Homo sapiens: one gene and its partner. The protein of the gene in region 1 interacts with the protein of each later gene in a pairwise test. Each region holds a gene or a part of one and is shown in the gene's direction. Other genes may lie near its edges.

Region 1 (5,251 bases):
TCAGGTGATCCACCCGCCTTGGCCTCCCAAATTGCTGGGATCACAGGCGTGAGCCACCGCGCCTGGCCTGTCAAGTGTTTCTTATCCTCTCCTGGACTGCAGACCTCTTTGGAATCCTACTGACTGCTCCTTTCACAATCCCCCAAAGCATATTCACCTCAAAGACTTTGCAGACAGTTATATGAGATCATGGTTGGTCCTGAACCTCGTCCTTAGAACCCTTTTCAGGTCAAGAAGTTATGATTTAGACCAGTTACCTCATTTTATACATAAGGAAACCGAGGCACAGCGAGGATAAGCAGTTTATTCAGGGTTTCACAGATAATCTGTGACAGAGCTGGGTGTTAGTCCTAGGTAGCAATTAACTGTAGAGTCAGAAATGCATTTGAATCCTGGCTCCCCCTCCTATCTCTTACCAACTCTGCAATTTAGGCAAGATACATAATCTTGTGCCTCAGTTTCCTCATCTGCAAAATGGAGATAACAATAGTGCCTACTTTGTGGGGAGTGCTGTGATTATAGGACAAATATGTGAGGAATTTAGAACCAATATCTTAATAAATAAATTGTAGCCCTTTTGTTTTGTTTTGTTTACAATCGTGAACCAGAGACAGATGTAGCTCTTATAGGTTCTATGTATTATTTTAAGAGCAGAGATACAAGTTGATTTTTTAGCCTGTACTTCTGGCTTAAGTGCAAGTTCCAACTGCAAGAACAAAGAACTGCCACTACCTAGCATTTTTTTTTTTTTTTGTAAATCAAGTAGAACTTATGGTACTGAAATATATGTGGTGATAACACCAATGTCTTAGCTTTTGTGGTTATTATCTGGGAATTTGCAGCTGCTCTTTATGAACTCACACATCTCTTTCCAAAGAGTGTATTGGTTAGCTTTTGCTGTGTAACAATGTGCTGTATTCATACCCTGAAATGTAGTGGCTTAAAACAATGGTCATTTACAGCCAAGTGTGATGGCTCACACCTGTAATCCCAGCACTTTGGGAAGCTGAGGCAGGCGGATCGTCTAATGTCGGGAGTTTGAGACCAGCCTGGCCAACATGGTGAAACCCTGTCTCTACTAAAAATACAAAAATTAGCTGGGCATGATGGTGGGTGCCTGTAATCCCAGCTACTTGGGAGGCTGAGGCAAGAGAATCACTTGAACCCAGGAGGTGGAGGTTGCAGTGAGCCAAGGTTGCACCATTGTACTCCAGCCTGGGCAACAAGAGCAAAACTCTGTCCCAAACAAACAAACAAACACCGATCATTTATTCACTCTTGTTTTGCTTGGCAATTTGGCTGGTTGCTTGGTAATTTGGGCTGAGTTCAGCTGGGTGCCTCTTCTGCTGGGTTTTTGAGCTTACTCATGTGGCCACAGCCAGCTGGAAGATTGGCTGGAGCTGGATGGTCTCTGGGATGGCCTCACTCACATGAATGGCTATTGGCCACTCATGTAGGGTGCCTTGGTTCTCCTCCATGGGCCTTCTCTAGCAGGCTAGCTTGGACTCATTCCCATGGTATTTGGAGAGCTGCCAGGAAAAGCAAGAGAGGGCAGGCCAACCTCAATGTTCAACCATTTTTCAAGCCTCTGCTTGTGTCATGTTTGCTAATGTCCTGTTAGCAAGGCACATGGTCAAGCCCTGATTCAGAAGACAGAGGAGGAGGCCCCACCTATTGATGGGAAGAGCTCCCTAATATTGTGGCTGTTTTCCCCCAGTATTCCACATGGAAGTTTAAATAAACAAATAAGGAGGAAATTATTAGTTCTAGAAGAAAGAATGAAAGAGACAGACAGACTTGGTGGCTCACGCCTGTAATCCCAGCACTTTGGGAGGCCGAGGCAGGTGGATCACGAGGTCAGAAGATTGAGACCATCCTATCTAACACAGTGAAACCCCATCTCTACTAAAAATACAAAAAATTAGCTGGGCGTGGTGGTGTGCACCTGCAGTCCCAGCTACTTGGGAGGCTGAGGCAGGAGAATGGCATGGACCCAGGAGGCAGAGCTTGCAGTGAGCCGAGATCACGCCACTGCACTCCAGCCCGGGCTGTGGAGCGAGACTCGGTCTCAAAAAAAAAAAAAAAAAAAAAGAGACAGAGGAGGGGAGATGGGAGGTTTGCTGTTTGCTGGTGAGTGGCTTGGCATGGAGTCTCTGTTGTCAGTTTAAAACTTCAGGTTGTGACCCTTAGGAGGTGTTTTCACTTCTCACAGTCCCTGGAGACCATCACCTCCAGGCCAGCCTGCCACCTGCCTCTGACTTCCACAGCTCTGAGACCCCCAGGGCCAATAGCCCTCCCTCCTCACTGGAAAGCTGCACTTAACAGGAGCTTGTGCCAGTGACTCAAAATAGAAATGTTTTGTGGGAGATGTTGACTGGTGTCACTGCGGGGTTTCACGTGACGGCGCTGCATCTGCTGTCCCAGCCTACTGTCTCTGTGGGATGTTTGTTTCCTAATTTGTGGTGGGTTCTCTTCCTTGCCCTTTTGTGTGCCCTCATTGCCCCCGCCCTGATTTCCCATCTCTCCATGTTATCTCCAGACTGTTGTGGGCTAGCCTGGGAACTGCCCCACCCTTCACTGCACTGTACTTCGGGGAACGTGCTGTCCAGGAATGGAGAGGATGGTCACAGCTGCACCTCTCTCCCTCACTCAGGGGACATTTCCTAAGGAAGGGCCTTATTGCAAGGTGGGCCCATGGCTGCCTTGCTCACTGCCATATCCCTGCGCTGAGAACAGTGCCTGGCCTGTCAGTAAAGACTTGTCCAGTGAATGAACATCCACAGGCAGGGCCAGGCCTGGTCTGAGAATTTGCACCTTGGAGGGTGCAGCTCGCAGGCCATCACAAGGGCTCTTCTGTAGTGCAGTGCAATCCCTGAGATCAGGAGTCGGCTGCTTCCGGCCTCCACAGCTTCCACGGGGCCAGCTGCCCTCCCTCCTCACTGTAAAGCTACACTTGACCCTGCAATAGAGGCTTGTGCCAGTGACCCCAGACAAAACTGTTGTGTGGGGGATGCTGACTGGTGTCACTGTGGGGCTTCATGCGAGGGTGCCGGTGTCTGACACTAAGTTGGTCTGTGTTGAGGGGGGATGTGTGTACTCAGGGCTGGAGCGGATGGGGGGACAGTTTCTTACCCCACAAATGCACCACCTTTGAGGGGCTCAATTCCCATCATAGACATGGAAGATTTATATATTTATATTGACAAAATTCCAGCAGAAGGCAATCGAGGGTCTCATTCTAGGAAAGGTCCATCTATTATGGAACTGGTCAGTCTCGTGATGAGAAAGTGACTTGTTTTGATTTGCACAGGGGTGCCCTGTAAGCTTGTCATGGAGCTGCGCCTACCTGTGTGGGTCTGTGTGGAAAAGGCTTTCTCTCCCCAGGAGAATGGTGCTAGGTCTACCTGTTGAAGGCTCTGGGTCTGTTGTAGAAGGCCAAGTGCCCCCCATGGTTGGCTGACTGTATGGCCGAGTGTACCCCCAATGAGTGCCTGTGGATGACTATCTCTCTGTGGATGGCAAGTGTCTGGCCGTGGATGGCCAACTGTTCAGCCATGGGGGACCAGGTGTTCCCCAGTGGATGGGTGTCCCCTCCTCCGTGGCTGGGTGTCCACCGTGGGGGGTCAGGTATTCCCCGTGAATGGCCATCTGTTGGCTCTTGGAGAACAGTGCATTTTCCTGGGAACACAGCCATGGCCCCTCCACCGCCCTCTGCCACTTGGCCCATCATCAGCAGATCTGGAGGTGATGGGGGCCTGGCCTGGCTTCCCCAGTCCCTGCAGCTTCTCTGCAAGGCTCTGAGGTGTGGAGCCCATAGGGTGTGTTGCGGGGGAACCGGGGCACAGCAGGAGGCCCCCAGGTGGCTCTAGGGGTTACATCCCCTCCCTTCCCCTGCCAGGCTGAGGCCGCGGAAGGAGCAGGGCACATACGCCCTGTCCCTCATCTATGGGAAGACGGTGTACCACTACCTCATCAGCCAAGACAAGGCGGGCAAGTACTGCATTCCCGAGGGCACCAAGTTTGACACGCTCTGGCAGGTAGGCTGCCCGTGCAACTTGTTCTGGGAGATGCCGTGCTCAGATGGGGTGCCGGGCTCTGGGGAGGAGAGGAGCCTCTCTGCTAGCTGCCTGCTCCCTGCAGCTGGTGGAGTATCTGAAGCTGAAGGCGGACGGGCTCATCTACTGCCTGAAGGAGGCCTGCCCCAACAGCAGTGCCAGCAACGCCTCAGGTGACGGCAGCAGGCGGGCGGGCGGTGGGCGGGGGCGGCAGGAGACCTGGCCCCCAGCCCTCACTGTCCCTTCTGCTCCCCCAGGGGCTGCTGCTCCCACACTCCCAGCCCACCCATCCACGTTGACTCATGTGAGTTGGGGGCACCTGGAGTGTGGCCTTGGGGATGGAGCTGGGGAGTGGCTGTGGGGGAGGCTGGGATGGAGGCTGGGGTGCCTGTGGAGCGGAAGAAGCTCTCTCTCCACTGTCTCTGGGAGTCCTCAGTGGATATAGGTCTCATGAGAGGGGCTGGACGTCCCCAGCTCAGGCCTTGCTGACCCTGTGGCCTTTAGCCTCAGAGACGAATCGACACCCTCAACTCAGATGGATACACCCCTGAGCCAGGTGAGCGGGCAGAGGTGGGGACGCGGGTTGGGGCTCATGCTGAGCCGAGATCAGGGTCGCTGTCAGGGCTGTGGGGTTTCACGGGGGGCGCTGTGGGCCGGGCCAGGCTGTGGCAGTTGGCTTGGTTAACACCTGTGCACACATGTGCCCACACCCATCACACCTGCCTGTGCACATGTACGTCCCAGTGTGTACTGACGTGCAGGGAGCACACTTGGCCTTGCCTGAGGCTCCCCAGACACACGTTTGTTGAGTACCTACTATGTGTCAGTCACGTTCCGAGGTCACTGTGTGTATGAGCCACCGAACCCTCCTGACATGCCTTATGAAGTGGCTATGGTGATTAACCTCACTTTACAGATGAGAGAGGGAGGGGTCTGTCTATGGGGATGTGAGGCAGTGGTAGAGGCGGGATGTGAACCCACGATGGGCCCCAGAGCTCACATTCCTAAAATGGTCTGCTGCGGGTGCTCCTGTTTCTCATGGGTGGGCCCAGACCTGAACATGTGTATGCACAGAGAAGACACATAGTTACATGTGCACCTAGAGGCTCGCTTTTGGAGGCCTCGTAAATGTGGCTGTGTGCTGCATACGCAGACAGGGACGGGCCCGGCCATAGGCGTACACGTACGAATGCACA
Region 2 (5,251 bases), about 44 Mb from region 1:
TTATTTCTCCTTCGTTTGTGAAGCTTAGTTTGGTGGAATATGAAATTCTTGGTTGTAGTGTCCTCTCTTTAAGAATGCTGAAAATAGACCCCCAATCTCTCTTGCCTTGTAAGGTTTCTGCTGAGAAGTCCACTGTTCCTTTTGTATGTGATCTGACGTTTTTCTCTAGCTGCCTGTAAGATTTTTTCTTTAGTGTTAACCTTCAACAGTCTGGTGACTGTATGCCATGGTGATATTCACGTTCACAGAGAGTTCTCTGTATTGCTTCTATCTGGATGTCTTCCTCTCTGGCAAGATTAGGGAAATTTTCTTAAATTATGTCCTCAAATATGTTTTCCAGGTCATTTACTTTTTCTCCTTCTCTCTCAGGAATACCAATAATTCATAGATTTGGTTGCTTTACATTATCAAATATTTCTCAAAGCCTTTTTCATTAAAAATTTTTTATTTTTATTTTTATCTGACTGGGTTAGTTTGAAAGACTGATCTTCAAGCTCCAAAATTCTTCCTTCTGCTTGGCCTAGTCTATTAATAAAACTTGCAGTTATATTTTGAAATTCCTTAAGTGAGTTTTTCAATTCCAGAAGCTCTGATTGATTCCTTTTTAAGATGTTTATCTTAAGATGCCTTCATTTCCTGAATTGCTTTAGAAGTTTCTTTGTGTTTATTTTCAACCTTGTCTGGATCTTGTTGAGCTTCCTTGCAATCCTTGCTTTGAATTCTTTATCTGTCATTTCTGAGTTTCCATTTGGGTCAGGAACCATTGCGGGAACACGACTGTGATCCTTCAGTGGTGTCACTATATTTAGATTTTTCACAAATCCAAAATTCTTGGGGTAGTTCCTTTTCATCTGGAGATGTTCACACTTCTAATTTTTGTAATTATTTTCATGCAGGTGGGATTTTTTTCTTTTTCTTTCTTTCACTATAATATTATTGTTTTTCCCTTTCACATTTATGATTTTAAATATCAACTCAGAAACCTGTTGAAAGAGACCCTTTTTCTCTGATTGTAGGCATTATTTATCATGCAGTGGTTATGAAGAAAGAGATGTAATAGAGAGTATAGTCAATATTAGTTTTAAGGCGTGGCTCCCATATATGTCATATCTACTGATAATTTTTCATAAATCTTAGCCTGAATCAATTAGTGGCATAATTTGGATTTTATCTTTTTCAGCAGTTATCAGAAATATTATCCATGTTTGATAGTTTGCATTTTTCTTTTTAAATGTTTACTTATTGGGCCCCAGAATGCTTGTTGGAGGAGGGATTGGAATGAAATGTATCCTTCATTGAATAGGATTTTTGTTTTAGCTTAAAAATGAATTCTAAGATATGAATCACTTGTTTTCTTGCTGACGTAGAGGCAAGACCTTTTTATTTTTGATAGAGACAGGGTCTCACTATGTTGCCCAGGCTGGTCTCAAACACGTGGCCTCAAGCAATCCTCTGGCCACAGCTTCCTAAATTGCTGGGATTCCAGGCATGAGCTACCCTGTCAGTTTAGCGAAGACAATTTAAATGATTACCAAGAAGTTAGCAAAGTAAATATGTTTATATAACAACATCCAACATTCAGTGAAGAGGGAAAAGCTTACCGTGCTACGAAACCCTTTTATGGTAGTTCCTTTGAAATTTGTGTTGATTTTTTTAAGTATTAGGGTTATCTGTTAAATGTTTTATTTTGTACCCTTAGGTGCAAATGTCAATTGTCAAGCCTTGGACAAAGCTACACCCTTGTTCATTGCTGCTCAAGAGGGACACACAAAATGTGTGGAGCTTTTGCTCTCCAGTGGGGCAGATCCTGATCTTTACTGTAATGAGGACAGTTGGCAGTTACCTATTCATGCAGCTGCACAAATGGGCCATACAAAGTAAGTGTTAAAAACAGAAAATAAACATGGTCTCTTAATCAAAAGCTAATAAAGAATAAATCTGGGCTAGACCCTTCACCTCTAGGCAAAGTCTTTGATATTCTCTTCCCTACCAATCTGCTGGGTGAACAGATCTACCCCTAATCTGTCCTTCATGCTGTCTTTTGCTCCTACTATTCCTGCACTTTCATATTGTGAGGCAGAATTGCTACAGACTGGGTAGGCTCAGGGACTTTCTCGGGGTGTTGACTCTTCCCATTGATTTCTCTAGTTATGGCTGTATCCGCCGCCTCCTCCTCCCTAGTTTTATCCCAGGCATCTTTAAGCATCAATCTGATGAGGCCATCCATGTTACCTCTCTGACCCCAGAAAGCTTTTGAGTTTGTGATGCCTGTTGGAGTGTGTGCTAAGTAGTCCTCCCTGTCTTAAACCCTTTGACTGAACTTTTCTTGATCTAACCTCAAATTGGAGAGAGAGTAAATGGGGGTTCCAGGAATCTTAGAAGCTAGTAACTTGGTTATACCTGTGAGAATATGGCTACCTATCATAAATTGGCAGTCAATGATTTTTAGAAATATATGTGAGAATATGGCTACCTATCATAAATTGGCAGTCAATAATTTTTAGAAATACATGTTTAGAATCTTTAGAGCCATAATTCTATAATAGCACTTTTTATAGCTGCTATTAGTATTATTTAATTTAAAAAGTAATAGTAAAATATTCATTACTTAATTTAGTTTGTTTACATAGTAGGAAAACAGATTCTGCAATTTGGTCATTATGCCACTAGGTGACACAGTACTTTACTATTTCATTAATGATATTTGTAAGCATGTTTATGTCTTGTGGGAGAGTATAATTTTTCCCACCTACTTAAAAAAATTAAACACATTTATTAAAGTTAAGAGACATTAGACTATTTTAACAAAATACTTAGATTTAAAAATTTGATATTTTCCCCAATTCTTGATCATTTATTTAAACATAAGTGTTAGATATTGTACTCTGAACTTTAAATGGTACCAAAACTCTCCTGGGCATTTGTTCTCAATTTTGAGAATTCTCATTGTCACTGATGATTTTCTTTATAGCCTACTTCAAAGGTAACCCCTTTTGTGAGTGTAAGTTCTACTTAAATGTTATCTTAGACATACATTACATGAGGAAAAGTCACAAAGAGAAATGTAATACTATGAAAATACTTCAGAGTAGCCCTGTCTGTCTTTTCCCAGAAAGAAGGAATTTCCTGGCTTTAACTATACAGTTTTATTTTTAATTTTAGAAGGGTAGAATAGTCCTTTTTTCTTTCCAGTTGACTGCTAGAGGTAAGTTTACAAATAACCTAAGAACTTTTGTTTTAATTATTTTCTTAGAACTTTCTCTACCTAGGAGCCAGCTTCTTTATAAATCTGCCTCCATATTTAATGAGCTCACTTTTTTTTCAGATAATAGAATATTTTAGCACAAATTATAATTTCTTCCTGATGAAAACATTAGTCTTAATTTCATGCCAGTTATCATCTTTAAAAATTTTTACTAATTGGAAAAGAAAAACTAGTTGGTACTTTAAGAAGGAAAATAGTGCATTTTCTTGATGCCAGTTTATACTTAGTAGAATGATGTTTTAAATAATTTATTAAACCCTAAAATATCTAACATAAAATTTGAATTTTGGGGGTTAAGGTGGTGCTAGTAAGGTAATAAAATTAAAAGAGCACCTTTTCTGTTTACATATAGGAACATTAATTTTGTTTCAAATGTATTTAAAGACCTTTTTATTAAGCAATAATAAGTGTAACATTCTGGAGTAAATATATAGCATGTAATAGTTTAATGTTGTTGGTAGAAGGTACACCCTAGACAGAAATATTTCTTTAAATGAATCAGTTGGTAATTCTGAAAAAAATTGTGCTATAGAAATGTTGCCTACATTTATGCACATATACAAACACTAAATTCTCCTGAATTTGTGTATTTATAGAATCTTGGACTTGTTAATACCACTTACTAACCGGGCCTGTGACACTGGGCTAAACAAAGTAAGCCCTGTTTACTCAGCAGTGTTTGGGGGACATGAAGATTGCCTAGAAATATTACTCCGGAATGGCTACAGCCCAGACGCCCAGGCGTGCCTTGTTTTTGGATTCAGTTCTCCTGTGTGCATGGCTTTCCAAAAGGAGTATGTATATTTGCTATGTTTTTATTTTTTATTCTTTTTTGCTGTATGGAGATGTGTTTTGAAGTGACTTTCTTTCACGATGAAACTTAGTATCTCTGTTAGTGCTAAATTGCTATCTTGGAACACAAATAGGAAAAAAACTATGATGTTTCAGTCAAGCTGAAGCAGAAATGAGGTGATAATATCACATTGTTTTCCTTCCTTCTTTGGATCTGGATTATATTTTTAGTGTAGCAATCTTAGGGAATACGTACAATTTAAGTAGACGCAGAAATTTGCTGATATTTTTGGTCTTCAAAACAATTCAAGAATTAAAAATGGGGCTTTATCAAGTAAGGCAGTGACTGCTTCAGGTCATTTACCGTTTCAAATTTATAAGATATAAGCCTAAAAATTAAACTTTAGTTTTATAGATATTATTGTGTTTTTAATGTATTTGGTGGATAGCATTAAAAAAAATTTTTTTTTTTTGAGACAGGGTCTCACTCTGTGGCCCGGGCTGGAGTGCAGTGGCACCATCTTGACTCATTGCAACTTCTGCATCCCAGGCTCAGGTGATCCTCCCACCTCAGCCTCCAGAGTAGCTGGGTCTACAGGTGTACACCACCACTCCCAGCTAATGTTTTTATTTTTAGTAGAGATGGGGTTTCTCCATGTTGCCCAGGCTGGTCTTGAACTCCTGGGCTCAAGCAGTTCCCTTGCCTCGGCCTCCCAAAATGCTGGGATGTCAGGCATGAGCCACGATGCCTGGCTTTATATTATTTTTGGATGTGAGTCTAAATAATTAAGTTTTTAAACGCCCCCAAATTAATTATTTTTCTAATCTGTCATAATTCTGTGAAATAGACTAAGTGAAGAATTACTGCTGCCTTGTTAGTGTCTGGCCAGTAACTTTGTCTATAACACTCTTACAGTTTTAAAACACTAAGAATAAAGCTGTGTGTAAGAACAGCCATATTGAGTAATATCTGGTCATCCAATAATGGAATAAGTTATGAAGATAGATGCTATTGTGTTTAATGACACAGAAGAGGTTGCAGGCATACCTCAAATTGTATTGGCCTTCTTGAATTCACTATTATGAATCTCTATTTAATTTGAGTAGTTATCAAGAAATTATTTACTAAGCTTTTCAGCCTTTACTATCTCTTAACATTTGCCATGTAAAATTAGTAGTTCACTATAATTTGTT

The links. Proteins that work in one complex are often made in the same cells at the same time.
Region 2: the proteins of ZAP70 (region 1) and ASB3 interact in a two-hybrid assay, tested with the Homo sapiens proteins (one large-scale study listed by BioGRID).

Annotation. Positions count from the first base shown.
Region 1 is NC_000002.12:97,728,985-97,734,235, forward strand, and holds part of ZAP70 (tyrosine-protein kinase ZAP-70), read left to right. Parts: intron 1-3,898; coding exon 3,899-4,037; intron 4,038-4,140; coding exon 4,141-4,228; intron 4,229-4,312; coding exon 4,313-4,359; exon of another isoform or gene 4,360-4,559; coding exon 4,560-4,611; exon of another isoform or gene 4,612-5,251. UniProt on the Homo sapiens protein: Tyrosine kinase that plays an essential role in regulation of the adaptive immune response. Regulates motility, adhesion and cytokine expression of mature T-cells, as well as thymocyte development.
Region 2 is NC_000002.12:53,713,192-53,718,442, reverse strand, and holds part of ASB3 (ankyrin repeat and SOCS box protein 3), read left to right. Parts: intron 1-1,699; coding exon 1,700-1,877; intron 1,878-3,861; coding exon 3,862-4,059; intron 4,060-5,251. Other genes in the region: GPR75-ASB3 protein, read left to right, coding at 1,700-1,877, 3,862-4,059. UniProt on the Homo sapiens protein: Probable substrate-recognition component of a SCF-like ECS (Elongin-Cullin-SOCS-box protein) E3 ubiquitin-protein ligase complex which mediates the ubiquitination and subsequent proteasomal degradation of target proteins. Recognizes TNFRSF1B.